Homo sapiens: one gene and its partners. The protein of the gene in region 2 purifies or fractionates together with the protein of the main gene of each other region. This does not show direct contact. Each region holds a gene or a part of one and is shown on either strand. Other genes may lie near its edges.

What was found.
Region 1: the proteins of RAP1GAP (region 2) and CNR1 purify together in Homo sapiens (affinity purification with western blotting, with the first as the bait; one study listed by BioGRID). This does not show direct contact.
Region 3: the proteins of RAP1GAP (region 2) and MEX3A purify together in Homo sapiens (affinity purification with western blotting, with the first as the bait; one study listed by BioGRID). This does not show direct contact.
Region 4: the proteins of RAP1GAP (region 2) and SKAP2 purify together in Homo sapiens (affinity purification with mass spectrometry; one large-scale study listed by BioGRID and IntAct). This does not show direct contact.

What each region holds. Positions count from the first base shown.
Region 1 is NC_000006.12:88,163,476-88,167,714, forward strand, and holds the start of CNR1 (cannabinoid receptor 1), read right to left. Parts: upstream 2,873-4,239; 5' UTR 2,328-2,872; exon of another isoform or gene 2,272-2,327; intron 820-2,271; exon of another isoform or gene 1-819. UniProt on the Homo sapiens protein: G-protein coupled receptor for endogenous cannabinoids (eCBs), including N-arachidonoylethanolamide (also called anandamide or AEA) and 2-arachidonoylglycerol (2-AG), as well as phytocannabinoids, such as delta(9)-tetrahydrocannabinol (THC).
Region 2 is NC_000001.11:21,662,815-21,666,397, forward strand, and holds part of RAP1GAP (rap1 GTPase-activating protein 1), read right to left. Parts: intron 2,504-3,583; exon of another isoform or gene 2,397-2,503; intron 1-2,396. UniProt on the Homo sapiens protein: GTPase activator for the nuclear Ras-related regulatory protein RAP-1A (KREV-1), converting it to the putatively inactive GDP-bound state.
Region 3 is NC_000001.11:156,079,666-156,083,756, forward strand, and holds the start of MEX3A (RNA-binding protein MEX3A), read right to left. Parts: upstream 2,801-4,091; 5' UTR 2,334-2,800; coding exon 1,880-2,333; intron 1-1,879. UniProt on the Homo sapiens protein: RNA binding protein, may be involved in post-transcriptional regulatory mechanisms.
Region 4 is NC_000007.14:26,858,025-26,861,607, reverse strand, and holds part of SKAP2 (src kinase-associated phosphoprotein 2), read left to right. Parts: intron 1-3,583. UniProt on the Homo sapiens protein: May be involved in B-cell and macrophage adhesion processes. In B-cells, may act by coupling the B-cell receptor (BCR) to integrin activation. May play a role in src signaling pathway.

The DNA of each region.
Region 1 (4,239 bases), on a different chromosome or scaffold from region 2:
CCAAACACTAATATGCAAGACAACCAAGAAGCCTGTCTAAATTTCCCCGTGGTTAATGTTAATTTTGAGTCAAAGCAAAGAACAGTGTTATACGACTGTTTTGAAACAGTTTCTCAGGCTTTGCCTTAGTAATTAATAAGCTGACACTGCATACTAAACACTTATCAACACAATCAATGGGGCTGCTTCCTTCTTGGGAAAATAGGTAAACCGAATCAAAGAGTTTTCTTTTGGAAGAGGCTGAAATATGCCACAAATACAGTGGTTCTTTTTGAGAATTTCATTCCCAGCAGTTTCATCTTGGTAACATTTAACAATTTCACTATTTTACCATTTTGAAATGCCAAAAAGAACACACTGATCCTGCAGCTAGGCTTATTAGAGAAGAGCAATCTCACAGGCAAGACAGAGAGGAACATGGTCCACTGGGAAATGGGTAACAGAAAAAGACAGAAAACAGTGGATAACAAACAAAGCCAAGCACTACTTCAATGTGAGACCTGGTGTTCATCAGAATTTAAAACTTTACACACTAAATAATAATCACTTATGGCTTATTTAAGGTTCTAGTCATAACATTCTTTTTACATACATATATTAATGTTATTAAAATTCAGGGGCATGAATATCTAATTTGCTTTCCTAACAACGAGTATGCAAGCACAGTAATTTTATTTGTGAAAGGCCAGAATTGGGTATTTCCACCTTGTGGCATCATTGTACCCCCATGGACACTGAGAAACACAATGAGACCTCTCCCCATCAGACACTTGATACATACCTCAGCCAAGAGCGCTCCTCGCCTGGAGTGGGAGACATCTTTGAAACAAAAAGAGTCGGTTTACAGTAAGTTCTCCTGATAAGCTAAAATGGATTAGTTTTTTAAAACCATGTCCCACATCAAGTCTCTTGCCCCACTATGGTAACTGCCATTGTGCCTACAAATAAGTGCCTGTAGTATGCAATGTTTAAAATTCTGGAGGTGCATGTCTTCTGCTCATGTATGGATATAATCTGAAAGTAATTTGTCTCACTTAAGAAACTATAAATGGCCTTTTATTTTTATAAAATTGCTCTTAACTGAGTTAGAGAGCGGGGGAGGGGGAGGAGTACCAGGGAAAAAAAGGACAGAGAAAAATCAATTAGTGTATCTTCCCTTGCAAACTGTCAGTAGGGTAGGATTAGAAAAGCAACACTTTAAATCACATAAAGTCCTATGGGAACCTTAAAGGTTGGTTGCTCTGAGCTTCTCAATATTCTGCAAAATAGATTGATGTCAGTGGTGACCCCACTAATACTCAGTGTCCGCTAAGCTTCCTCTAAGAAATTGCATTTCCCCCATTGTTCAAAAGATATTAACTTGGTAATAAAAATGAGGAGAAGTTATGGGACCCACAGAGATATCTTTCAACACCTTTAAAACCAGTAAATCTGTTCTAATCTCTTATTGGATTACATGCCCGAGGAGGCTTACTATATCAGGAAATCAACAACAAAGGCAAGAATAGCACTTATTTGGAGGAAAATAAAAAAAGATGGGAGGCAAAATGATTAATACGTTACTAAACATTTCTTTTGTTTTTTTATCTGTTCAATTTTAAATATCTGAGAGACAATCTATTAAAATCAGAAACATGCATGTTGCTTTTAAACTTCCAAATGACCAAATGACAGTTTCTCATGTCTATTACAGCAAACATATTTTTATTTGAGAGGTGATCCGTTTATGATTTGTAAGCCTTAACAAGAAATGTCTTTTAAAAATGCAACATTAACTTTAGTCATCTAACAGCTAGTTCTGAGTTAAACGGTTCCATCAACATTCAATTTTAGGTATTAGTTACATGGACATTTGTTTTTCCTCAAAGAGAAGTGGTTCCTGTAGCTTTTTATCAAAAGTTTATTATTTGACATACATCTCTTTATATGACATTTACTATTTTACATTAGTCAGTTTCTAGGCTTGCAGCAGAGATCGATGTATTTCCCTGGGAAGACTTAGCTGCTAACATGGTTTATAGGCATTCAGCACCAACTCAAGCGCCCGTTTTTCAAACATGCACAATTACCCATTTTCTACAAACAGACATCAGTGCATACAGAGCCAGGTGCACACACATTCAATAAATAGTAAATGGTAGAAATCTCCAGAAGTAGAACAGATCACAGTTAACAGGCTGGGGCCATACAGCTAAGTAAACACCGACGCACGATTCGCTCACACGGAATAAGAACTCCACGAAGGACACTTGGGGACCACACTGGTCGTACCCGAGGGGGCGGGAGGCGGAAAAAGTATTTCCAAACGCAACTCTGCCAGGTCTTACCCTTCGCATCCCCTGGTCCTCGGGACAGAAGCTCCCTTGGCACCTCTCGCCCAGCTCAGGGGCTGGTTGTCCGCTAGAACGAAATATCCCCCACTGACTACGGAGAGCTCTGCAGGGAGCCGAGGCCCCCGCCCGGGCCAAGGGAAGGCGCTGGCGCCGCGGGAGACAAGAAGAGGCGGAGGCGGAAAAGAAGTGGAGAAGGAAGGGGTGGCAGAGGGAGTAGCGTGCGGGAGGCGGCGCCGGCGCCGGGCTGCTGGCGAGGCGGGGTGGGGTGGAGTGGGGTGTGCCTCCGGCGGGCGGTCAGCAAGTCAGTCCGTCCGAGCGCCGGCGTCCCGGTCTCCAGCGCCCGCCCGCGACAGCGACCGGGACTGGCGCCCCGCTGCTCCGACCGCCGGCGAGCCTCGCCCCTTCCCAGGCTCTTCACTGGGTCCTCCCGCGAGCCCCGCCTGGCCCGGCGTGGGGCCGCCCGTCTCCGCCAGCCCGGGCGCCCGTCGCCTCGTCCCGCTCGCGCAGTCCCTGCCGCTCCCTCCGCTCGCGCTGTCTCTGGCTCCCTCTCGCTCCAGTCCCATTTATGAAGCGCGGTCCCATCACGTGTTAATGAGCCTTTGTCCTGCCCTGGCAGCGGCGGCGGCACAGACCCCGCCGAGGGAACTGCGCGGGGAGGGACCTGAGCGCAGCGCCCGTAGCCCCAAACTTTGCTTGGGGCGGGGGACCCGCCGCGGCGCCAGCCCTGGGGCCAGAGGGGACAAGCCTCTTCGGCCCGCGTCACCTACTTCTCCTCTTCCTCCTCCTCCTCCGCCGCCGCGCTCCCGGAGGCCCCCGCTGCCATGACCTCGCTGTGCTCCCGGATACCCTCACACCCTGACCAGGCCAAGAAGGGGCTGGTGCATGCGCCGCCCACGACCTCGGGGCCATTAATCACACGCTCCCGGGCAGCGCGCATCGCCAACACCTTCCGCGGGGGTCACGTCTGGGGCAGCGGGCTGAGCCGGAAGGGGAAGGGGAGCGGGAGCCCAGAGGCCGAGGCGCGCCGGGCCCGGGGGTGCGGTCTCGCGCCCCCTCCCTCCGCGCAAGGCCGCTCCCGTGGCAGGCGGCAGCGAGCTGGGCCCGGGGCCGGGCTGAGCTTTGGGACCGCGCTGCGCAGCCCCCGAGCCGTTCGCTACCTGGCTGCGGTCGCGCGGCCACCTGTCCTCCGCCCTCGGGGCGCCGCCCAGCTTCGCGCCAGGCGCCTTCTCCAGCGCCCGCCGCCCTTTCCCGGCGAGACCACTCGGGCGCGCCCCGCCCGCCGGTCCCCGATGCAAACAGTTGGGCTCCGTAGGCGGCTGGCTCCGCGCCTCCCGGCCCGGCGCGCCCCCTCCCCGGCCACCCGGGGCCCCGCTCCTCGCACCTTTTCGCTGGAGGAGGACGCCCCACTCCAGGGCCGGACTGGGGGCTCTGGGACTCGGGGGCGGCAGCGGCGGGCGCCTGGGGAGCCGCGGTGTGCTCAGCAGCCGCGGCAGGAATTAGGGGACATGCTCGTTAATTGTTTCCACTATCAGCCGCCGTCTGCCTCCTGTGTGCACGGATCAAACCTTAATTGGTCTTTACATTTATCATGGTGAATTGCGAACCTCCAAACAAGCCTGGGCCGCCGCTTCTGCCGAGGAGGCGCTCCCCTCCCCTCCGCCCCCGGGGCCCTGCAGGGTGTGCGGCGGCGGTCGTGGTTATTTAGACATCTTTATCTCTCGTGAGTTGGATCGGGAGAGGATCGCACGGTTTCCACCTGACGGAGCCACGTCACGTCGGCCACAAGGGCCCCGTGCTGGGCGCTGGGTTCGGTTCCCGGCCGTCCTCTTGTGGCCGCCTTGGCGTTCATTTTATGACACCTTGCCGGTGTTCCCAGACATCATCCCGCACCGCTCCGTTTTACCGA
Region 2 (3,583 bases):
TGACCTGGGGCAGGCTATTTAACCTCTCTGAGCCCTTGAGGGTTGCTAAGAGGATTAAATGAGATAGATCCATGAAAAGTGCTTACATAGGGCCCAGCACACTGCAAGTGCTCAATGAATGCCCCCACCTGCATCCAATTGCTCAGGCCCCATCATGCCTCCCCCCATCCAGAATCTTCCTAGAATTCCTGAGCTAGCTGCCCACTTCCCACCCTGACTGCCATTGGGTGGGCCCAGCATTGTAGAGTTTGTGCAGGACCCAGGCTTCTCTGCCCTTCGGAGGACTACAGAGCCCACACCTCTCCAGCCAGGGAGGGCTGTGGGCTTTGGGGACTCGGACAGGTGAGGTCTTTGTCCCAGCGGCTCTGCCCAGTCCTGTTTCTAGAGGCAGGGAGCCCTGGGAGAGGGGCTGTAAGGGCAACCCTCTATCCCTGGCAGAGCTCCCACACCTCAAGTGAAAGGCAAGTGGTGAATGAGGCAAGGCTAGAGTCTTCAGTCCCATGGCATCCTGAGCCTGCTGCCCGGGTGGGCACAGTGCCTACAGCAGTCTGCCAGCGGGTGGATGGCCTCTCTCTGGACCTCCAACACAGGGGAAGACGCAAGAGGCTGGTGATGGTGACATCAGCTCAGGCCTTGTCCTGGCAGCCTCTCGAGGGTCCCTGACGCTGCCAACTTTTGAGCAAGAAGAATCAGGGCTGCCCTGGCAGTTCTGGCACCGAGCTTGCAGGCAGGAAGAAGTTCCCAAGGTCACCCTCCATCAGCCACCTCCACCCTACCCCTCGAGCCCTGAATCAAGGAGTGAGGCCTTGGAGAGGGCTGTCCTCTGAGCAGGGTACTGGGGTGGCTTTCCCTCGCAGAACTGGGGCCCAGAGTTCAGGAGCCAAGCAGAGGGCTGGACCCATCTGCCCCACCTCCACCTTCCCTCTGCTGCCCCCACAGCCTGGCTGCGGCAGACACATGGCTCCCGTGGCCTTGAGAAGGTCACAGCCTCTGAGGTGGCTCAGGCATCTGATCCTCACCCACTGCCCCCAAACCCCAGCCTTGCCAGCAGATCCACCGTCTCAGGGGAGTCTGAGGAACAGGTACTGTAGTTTCAAGAAATACTGCAATTCCCCCAGAGATACAACAACACACTTGAGGCTCACACAACACAGTCACCAGCTTCAACTCATGGGAGCTGTACTGCAAAGACAGAAACTACATCCTCCCATTCCACAGATGGAAAGGGAGGCTCAAAGAGGCCGGGCGGCTTGCCTGAGCTCACCCAGCTAGTGGGGTGGGGCCAGAAGCGGAACACAAGGTTCCTGACTTCCTGAACCAATGACAGCCCCCGGCTCTCCAGCTCTCATAGCAACCTAGTTCCCGGGTGGCTTGGTGCCTTGATCCTCTTGCCTGCCCCTGGGATGGAAGAGGCTGGAATCCTCTCCTTTGCACACTGGGAGAAAATGAGGCCCAGGGAAACAGGCGAGGGGGCCATCCTTACACAGCAGTGGCAGGGCAGAGAACTACGCCAGGTGGTTCCTCATTCCAGGCTAGTGGGCTCAGCCTGCCCCTCCCGTGTATCCTGCATTGATTTTGGGGAAATGCAGACTCCTCGGCCTGCCATTCAAGGCCCTTAATAGACTGACCCCGATTTGTCCCTACCCCCACCTTCCATGAATCCAACCCAGTGTCCACATTGCCACCCCCAGCCCTTGCCCACGCCGTAGCTGGTCTCGCCTCCAGGAGCGCCTCCACTTCTCCTCTTGCTGTGCAACTGGTAATTCTACTACTAACATTATCACTTACTGAACACCTAATATGTGCCAGGCAAGGACTCCTCAAGGAGGAAACTTACCCAGCTCACCTGGTGATAGCCATGCCAACTACTTTGGAAATGCGAAGTTACGGAAAAAATTCTCACTACTCTCAAAACACTGAAGAAAAGGCTTATTATTTTTTTTTTCTGGCTGTAGAGAAGTATTGGATGTTTTTAGAAAAGATTTTTCTCCAGATTTGTGTTTGCTTTTCCTTCAGTGTGTCTCTCTGTGTTTCTCTGAGTGCAGCTTTATATTTTTCAAAGCAGTTCCCAGCCAGTATGTCTGGCCTCGCAAACAACATCCCCAGGGAGGCAGGCAAATAAAAGCTCGTCATCCCCGTTCTAGGGAGAAAGAAATGAGGCACAGAGAAGGCAGGTGATTTTTCCAAAGTCACACAGCAGAGACTGGATTTGGCATTCTGAGGACTCCCAATCTATGTCCTTTTAGACCCAGCAGAATGCCTAGGATAAGCTGGGCACTGCCCTCAGTGTTTGCTTGCATTCACCTTCTTATCCCTTGAAACATACTCATCAGGCAAGTGCTATGATTCCCACTTCCTAGATCAAGAAACAGACTCAGAGGGAGAGAGGAACTCACCAAAAGTTGTACGGCTGCTCAGTGGCAATGTCAGAATTCGAACTTGGGTCTGCTTCCTCCGAATGGGGGTCCGAGGGAGGGTGGCCTCGGTTGGCAGAGGTATTAACCTGTAGAGTGGGCAAGTCACTTTCTCTCTTTGAGCCTCACCTCCTCATCTGACACAAAGCACCGGGCTGTGGCAGGGACCACAGGACCCAGCTCATCTCTGTGCCCCAGTGCCTGTCACAGTCCCTGGGATCCACTACATGCTCATTAAATGCTTAGTGAGTAGGCACACGAGGCTGCTCCCATTGTGCTGGTGCAAAGCAGGAGTATCATGTTTTGCTTCCTTTCTTGCAGTAGGAAAGGCTGGAATCCCAGTGGGACCTTTCTGTTTTGGGGTGTCTCCCCACCAGCACTCCTCTGCCTCTTTTCCCTTCTTCCTCTCTGAGTCACCACCTGCCTGACAGTGCTGGTCTTTAGCCCTAAATATAGAGCACATTTTGAGGCATAAAATGTCCACAAATGTGAGCAACATAGCTGCAGCCCACTGCCCTTGGGTACCCTCCTCCTGGGCTGACCCCAGGGTGGCCGCCCCAAGAAGCCCTGAGACTGGCGACCCCTGCTTGGCCCTAGTGTGGATCCAGAGGCTGCACTCTGCAGGAAGTCATCAGCCTGGGGCCCCATGGGCCCACACTGCCACCAGAGCCCAACTTCCTTTCCTTATTGGCACAGGGCTGCCACCTCACACCTCTGACTTTCCTCATCCCCCAGCCAGGCTGAGCTGCCTCCCAGAGCTGGAGCTGGGCCCAGAGAGGGAAAATGACTTGTCCGGGCCACACAGCCAGCAAGAGGCAGGGCCAGGCTTGGACAGGGAATCAGCACTCTGGCAGGCTTGGTGTGAGTGCCGAGGGAGCATGGTGGAGCTGGGAGCCCCTCCCCATCTAGCATGTCTGCCCTGGAGGCCTCACCTAAGCCCACAGAAGCACCTCTCCACAGCGCCAGTCTCTCAGAGGCACAGGGTGCCAGGGCCAGCCTGGCAGAGGTCCTGGCATGCAAGGAGGTGAGCAGAGAGTGCTGAGGGCTCCCTTCCCTTCACACCAGCTGGCCCCCAGCCTTGCTGGGAGGACAAAGCAGAAACTGGGGCCTGGTAATGCCTCTAGCAAAAGTGGAAAGGAAAGGGAACCCCAGAGCCGCTTGGAGCCTGC
Region 3 (4,091 bases), about 130 Mb from region 2:
TATGGAGGGTCACAAAACAGTGAACTCCCCTCTCCTACCATTTCTACTCACATATCGTTTGATGGGCACCTGGGTTCTGGCCGTAAGTTTTGGGTCCAAAAACTTAAATGAGAGCTAGGTATCTTTAGCGGTTGGGGTTGGGGTGAGGAGGACAGGCCAAGGCATCGAGTAAGAAGAAACGCTAGAGGCCTGGAGGTGCAAAGCTGGTGGTGGGTCTCTTCCTGGGTTCTGCAACCCCAAAGAAGCATCTCTTGAAGGGAAGACCCACTGGGCTTCACCTTCCTAGAGGTCAAACAGAGGAGCACTAACACTGCAGCAGGAGGAGGGAGGTTAGACAAGAGGGAGGACTTCCATATACTTGACTGAGGGGCAGGCTTATCTTTTGTGAATAAAAATCCCCTTACTTTTATGAGGGACAAGCCCATCTGATGCGGAGGCAGAAGAGGAAAGAATGACTCCATTAAATTCCGGGGCCTCCCAAGACCACCCCCACACCCAAGAAAAGATAGCAATGTCCGTCCCCACCCAATTCCAGGGCTTTGGATCCCCAGTTTCTGACAAGAGGAAATCCAACTTTCTAAATCAGAAATCTCAAGAGATGGAGTGCCCCAGGGGGATGAGGGCTGTGCAGGGGAGTGGCATCTTCCCCTCCTCCATTCTGGATCTCTCCGTGAAATCCCCCTAACCCCCAGCACTCCCAGTGGATAAGGTGGGATGTGGAGTAGGGGCCCCCCTGGCCCGCCTCCCCTTTTCCTCTGCCAGAAGCTGGCCTCCTCCCGCACTCCCAGCCGGAATGCAGCTCCTCTATTGTTCCCCACTGTGGGACAGCTCCTCCCCCACCCCACACCTCCCCAGCCCAGCCTCTTTGCAATTTCCAAATCCTGCCCCCCACACTCTCCTTTGAGAAGCCAGGAGAGGGAAGGGTCCCCAAGATCCCGTCTGCTCAATTTGGACCTTCACCAACACCCCCACTCACCCACCCAGGGATGCTGGAGCAGCAGAGGGTGTGGTACCAGACATACTACGCTGGATTAATTCTGCACCCCCTCCCAACACACCCAGACACACGCCCTCCACCAAATTTCCAGGTGAAGGTTTCTTACCCCCCAGCATTCCCCCTCCTACCCTGTCCTACTCTTTCACTACCAGAGACCCCTCTCTAGGCCTCTGGCCCAAGGCCGTGGCCAGCCCAGAACAAAAGCCAGAGAGGGAAGAGGAGAGGTCCAAGCCAGGACGTAGCACTTCCTTGGAGACACCCCTTCCAAAACCCCAGAGACAATCCAACTTTGGGGTGTGGGTGACCACAGGACCCCCTCCTCTCAGCAGCCCCCCTCACCGCCTCTTCCCCAGGCTGGGACCCTCCCCTGGGCCACACCCCCTTCCATTCCTACACTCAGCCCAACAAAGAGACAGATACTCAGTCTGGCTTCGAGGGCCAGGTCTCCCCCAAAGTCTGTAACTCCAGGCGGCTGGGGGCCCCAGGGATGCCCCCTCCCCAGCCTAGGAGCAGATACCAGAGTACAGGCTTCTGAGTAACTCTTTGCACATTCCGTCAGTTTTTCTGGTTAGGAGTGGACACCCCCTCAGGACAGCCTCCCTGGATTGGGAGACCGATCCCCTCCCCTTTCCCTCTTCCAGTGCGAGGATATTTCTTTGTCTAAAGGCAGAGTCCTGGGGGAGGAAGGATCTGGAGAACCGTCCCGACTAGGGGTAACGGGGAACTTTGTGGCACTTTGAAATCAGGGTAGGGGGCGGGTCCCCCTTTGTGGGGAAGGGACAGAGCCGGAGGCGGGCAAGAAGGGAAGAAATGAACTTTCCGCGCTAGGGACGAGGGTGCCCCCACTACAGTCCCTCTCAGTGGTCCCGGCGCCCCGCTTACCTTGCCTGCCCACGATCTCGGCCACGTGCTCGGAGGTGGGCACGGGAACACACTCCGTGGTGTTGCTGCTGCCCTTCAGGCGCAGCTCGGCCTCTTTGTAGAGAGCGCAGAGCTTGGCGTCGCTCGCCCCTTTGGGGGCGGTGGGGGGCTGGGGCGTCTGCGCTGCGGGGGCCGCCGTCGGGGCGGCCGGGGGCGCCGCGGGCGGCGGCGGCGGGGCCGGCTGCGGGGGGGCGGCCGGCTGCGCGGGGGCGCCGCCCCCCCCACCTCCCCCGTCCTCGCCCGCCGTGGGGGCGGGGGGCTCCCCCAAACCCAGGAGGCAGAGTTGATCGAGAGCCAGCTGAAGGGCGCGCTCGTCTTCCAGCAGCCCTCGGTCCTTAGCGCTTCCCCCGAAACATCCTAGTTCTCCAAAGCCCCCATTTCTTTCCATTATTCCAGATACCACTAGACTAGGCATGGCGAAACAAAAGCTGGGGGAGAGAGAGAGGGAGAGAGAGAGAGAGAGGTGGTGGAAGGGAAAAGAGGAGAGAGGAGGGGAGGGGAGAGGAGAGGAGGGGGTGTGTGGGGAGGGGGGAACAAAGAACTGGGGAGGGGGGAAGAAAGCGAGATAGAAAGATAGACCCTCCCCCTAAGCCCCCCTCCCCAAACACCCTGTAACCCGACTCCCCTCGCCCCAGCCCCCGGGGTGGGGGTGGGGGGAAAGAGAAGCAAAACCAAGAAAGCAGATCTCCTCTCCTCTCCGGGGGTGACGGGGGGCGGGGGGCTGCAGGATCTCTGCCCCCACCCCTCCCGCCTCGGACCTGGGAGTCTCTAGCCCCCGCTGTCCAGGCGCCCCCGTTAGGCTCCCGCACCGAGCCCCAGTCCGGGAGCGGCGCTCAGTGGCCCCCAATAGAGCCCAGCCCCTTCCAGCGCTCAAACTCTTTTGTTTTAAATGAACTGGATGGAGCAGCATGAAACTGACGGGAGGGGGGCGCGCCGGGGGCGCCCGGGGCATGCCGGGAGTTGTAGTTTCCCGCCCTTGGGGGCGCGGGGACAAATTCCTTGACCCGAGGAGGATAGGGATGTGGCCTTCGGTCTTTCCTCGCAGCTCCGGGGCAAGCTAGGAGTGGGATGGAAGTCGAGGTCCCTAATTTTTTAAGGGGAGGGTGCGGGGAGAAGGGGTAGTATGCGGAAACAGAGCGGGTATGAAGCTGGCTAACGCCGCGCGCCCCCTCCCAGGACCCGCTCCTGCCCCGCGCCGGCCGGTCCTGGGGGCCCGCTTTTTTATGGAAATGAGGAGGGGGGGCCGGGGCCGGGGGCGGGGAGCCGGGAGCCGTCCCCGCTCGCTCACTGCGGCTTTCTCTCTCGCTCCCCTCTCCCCGCTCCCTGCCGCGCTCACTCTCCGCTTCCCCCTCCCGCTCTCCCAGAGTCGATCCCGGAGCCCGGCCGCGGGGAGAGGTTCTCGGCAGAGAAGACAAAGCCCGCAGCAGCGATGGGGGGAGAGCTGGGCTCTGCGTGTTGTGGGGGCCAGGAAAGGGTGCCAGGCTGGGGCTGGAACCCCCTGGCAAAGGATGGGGTCCCCTCATCCCTAAACAGCAAGCCATCTCCCCTCGCCCGCCCCCCGCCCCCCCAGTCTCGGAGATCTCAGAGGCACCGACTGGGAGGTGAGTTAGTTCACGTCCTTCTGCTCGGTGGAGGGGGTCGGGAGGGCGGTGGAGTGATGAAGTGCAGAGGTTGAAGGAGTGCAGGGACAGAACTGGGGGTCGGACGGAGAGTGGGCAGGCAGGAAAAGTCTTAAAGGCCTGGGGTGACTTAACCGTTTGGGGTGAGGGCCTTGAGCTTTGGATATGACAGGAGGGAGGAGAGACCAGGATGGACTGGGAACCCAGGCTTCCTTCAGGCCTGGGCTGTGAATACAGCTTGGGGTGATCTGTCCTTTAGCACTCATCGTAATTTCCACTCTGTTTCCTCCACCTCTCTCCCATTGAAAACCTATTCAGGGCCGGGCGCGGTGGCTCACGCCTGTAATCCCAGCACTTCGGGAGGCAGAGGCGGGTGGATCACCTGAGGTCAGGAGTTCGAGACCAGCCTGACCAACAAGGTGAAACCTCGTCTCTACTAAAAATACAAAAATTAGCCGAGCATGGTGGCAGACGCCTGTAGTCCCAGCTACTCAGGAGGCTGAGACAGGAGAATTGCTTGAACCCGGGAGGCGGAAGTTGCAGTGAGTCTAGAT
Region 4 (3,583 bases), on a different chromosome or scaffold from region 2:
TATTGTTAACTCACATGTGTTGTGTAAAGATACCATTGAAAAAGTGGCTATCTAGTTTGATTTTTAGTTATATTTTCTGTGGAGTCAGTCTTGAAGACCTATGCTTTTTATAAAATGTTGATTATTCTTTTGGTTATATGAACAGAAAAGGACTTACAGAATTTCGTTGTTGAAAGCAAATTTTGAGCTGCCATATGCATTACAGGCAACCTTTGATTTTTTTCTTTTCTACAACAATGGAAAAACAGGTTTAGCCTGGATAATTGAAATCAAAGGACAATCCCAAATCTTGTCCATTTAATCTTCTCTCACATCCAAATATTTTGACTAGGACTAGCAGCAAGAATAATCTTGATTTATGTGATTTTTTTTTTTCTCTAGACAGGCAAGAAAGTAAGAGGAACTAGAACCACTTCCCTCCAGCCTCCTTCATTTGTTTAATCACCCTTTAAATAATGGTTTGTTAGTGGCTTGCAATCAGACCTTCTCATTCATCCTCATTCATTTGTTTTAGGACAACAAATTTTAAAAGGAAAGCTCTAAGAAGATGTTATTTTCTGTTTACTAAATTAGCAAATGAAACCATTGTTAAAAGAAGAAAATAGTGATTGTTAGTGCTCTGAAAAATCAAACCAAACCAAACAAACAATAAATAAGTGATCTTGAGGTTTTGTTCACATGGCACTCTTGATTAGAAATACCACATTTTCCCTACTGGGAATTTTTAGAACATTAGAAAATTTTTTCCCACACATTGATTATAATGTGTGAATATTTTTTTCACACAATATTATTTAGGGTATGTAATCAGTCCCCTAAAGGGATTCCTGTAGGGGCACTAGGTGAAGAGTGCAATTTATTTGAAATAGAGGCAGAATTTTTTCAATGCTGAGTATATTACGGTTTAATTTCCACCTTTCCAAAGTTCCATTTATAATTTGGTCAACATTTTGGTTTTATTTTTCCTATGAGAATTATTTATGGTGTATCTAGTGTCCCATAACTTCCTTCTGGGACATTGGCTGAGTATGTAAAGGGAAGAGTGCCACCTACTGAGTCACCAATAGTCACCTACCTCCTTAGCACCTGGGTTTTCCTATGGAGCAAGAACAAGCCTGCCCCATTTGGGCAGCAATCACTAAAGAGCATAAAGTTGATATGAGAACATTTAATCTCAAAATGAAATCTATCGTACCTCCAAGATATTCTTTTCTAGAAATAGGAATATATGTAAATTAAGGGACTAGAGGTTTACAGAGTTTTTTGTATGGGCTAAATAATATAGATGAATTAAGATGTGGTGTTAGGAAAATTATTTGCCTATTTTAAGTATATAATGTCCTGCTTTTTCTTGGGAGGAGATCTTTTGGCATGGCTGTCCATTGAAAGTATTTTCATCTCATTACTATATAAGGCTCTTGATACTACGTACAGTTTTTATAGCTACCCAATCCAAATTATCATTGGTTTTCTTCAAAAAGAAGAATCTAAACATATTAAAAAATTAGCATTATATGAAAAATTTGCAAATGGGCTTATTGCTCCTGTTACCAGCATTAAAGTATTACTAGAAAGAAGGTAGACACAACAGAGTAGGAAAAGCTGCTGGTGATTTGAAACACAGTTTAGTTGTCTCATAAATTTCAGATTAAGTGTCATATATGGGTGATAAAAGTGGCATAGGCTAGATTTTATATACTCATGATTCACTTAGTTTGTCTTTTTCAATTAAAGCTAAGTCTCTTTTTCATTCCACTGAATTTACATTTCTTTTTCAATCACATTCTGAACACATTACAATAGATGCTGCCTAAAACTGAATATAGTGTAAATCTCAGACTAATGTGTTATTCACTGTGGCTTCTTTGAAAATATGTAGTAAAAAGATTTTGATTATTGTAAGGTGCTATTTATCAAGAGTCATCTTTTAGGGTTGAAAGATGTTCAGCCCTACCTTTAAACAGCCCAGCTTTCTATCAAAATACATCATTTAGCTTCCCAAAGTCAATTTTGGAAATTTTGTCCAATGATTGGATTGTAAGACTCTGGTATTTTTTACCCATTGTACCATGAGAGCTCTTGTGCCAGTTCATGTCACCTTTTCCATGTTTGAAAAGTCCACAGTTCATCTGTAACCTGTAAAAGTGCTAAGTAATCAGGGAAAGACATCAGTTAGAACAATCAATAACTTTTCAATTAGCCATTTTCCAACTTTGGGCATTTGGCTCTGTTGATTTGCATGTGCCCAGTTTAATTGATTTTTATGTTTATCAGTACCTGTTTGGTCAGAGCCATACCCTGCTTTAACAGAGAAGAGCATGTCTTTTTTTTTTTTTTTTCCTGATGGTAGCTTACATTCTAGGGTAGGATCCCTATCATATTAAGTTTGGTGACAGCACATCTCAATGAAAGCAGAGAGAAATCTGGCCCAATTCACAATGTAGAGAGAGATGTGGAATTAAGTTAGAAAGGCCATGGGGGTGCTGTGTGATTGGTTTTACCTTTATTTTATTGATCTGCGGCTAAGCATATGGTGGTAGATTCAGCCCAATTCTTGCGCCCTCCCCCTCCCCCATACAATTCAGGCCATCACAGAGGCTGAGTGTGTGTATATGCATGGGCCAGGAGGTATTGGGTGGTTGGAGGACTAGGCAGGAAGAGGAGGTGTTACCTTTGTGACTTGTTTTTAACCTCCAGTATGCAAGCCCTATTCTAGGCTGTTTGATAGTCGGGGGTGGTGAGGACAAGTGGCCAAACTGCTTTTCAAGAGTGGGAATCTGTGCTAGATACTACATCCAGAAGCTGAGAGTTACTTTATCATTTGCAAAAAAATTTAAACTGTTCTGACCTGGTGTAGTTCCACCTTTTCACTATGTGATCTGTGTAGAAGTTGGCAGAAAGCAGTTAGTGTGTGTGTGTTAGATACTTGTCCCAACCACTTGCGACTCCAGGGAAAGGTGGGGTGGCTGTTTTTTAGGAGGTCTATATGTTAAAAGGGGGGAAAAAGGAAGATTGGAGTACTATTCAGTGATTTGGTGTGTTTGCCTCTTAGGGGTCTCCATGGCAATTGAGAGATTTCTAACTTAAACTGCTCAAGATTGCTGAGCCAGTATACGTCAACTTTTAATTTTGTTTTCAGACCTTAACATTTATCGACAGAGCAGTTGTAAATCTGATCTTTTCAGAGGCCTTCTCCCCCAGATCCTTACAGCTGTACCGTGAGATAAGGTTTACTCTTGACAGTGTTAAGGTGTATTAGGAGCTAAAATCCCATCACGTTTACTTTCACCAGGATAACTTTTTCCTGCTGATGACTTGGGCTGGGGTGGAGGCTGATGGAGATAGGGGTAATTCTGGGGTTAAATGCAAGCAGTGTAGACTCTGCAGTCTATTTGGCTGCCGGCCCGGAGGCAGGAGATGGGGGTGGGTGGGGGTAGTTAGACCTGGTAGTTAAACCCTTTCCCGCGGGCGCAGAGTGGGCCTCCCACGCTTCTCTCCCGTGGCCAGTATGCGTGAGAGTGTGAGTTGAGCCCCTGCCTCCGAGGAAGAATTCTAAAAACCGGGCTAAGGGTCGAGCGAGGGA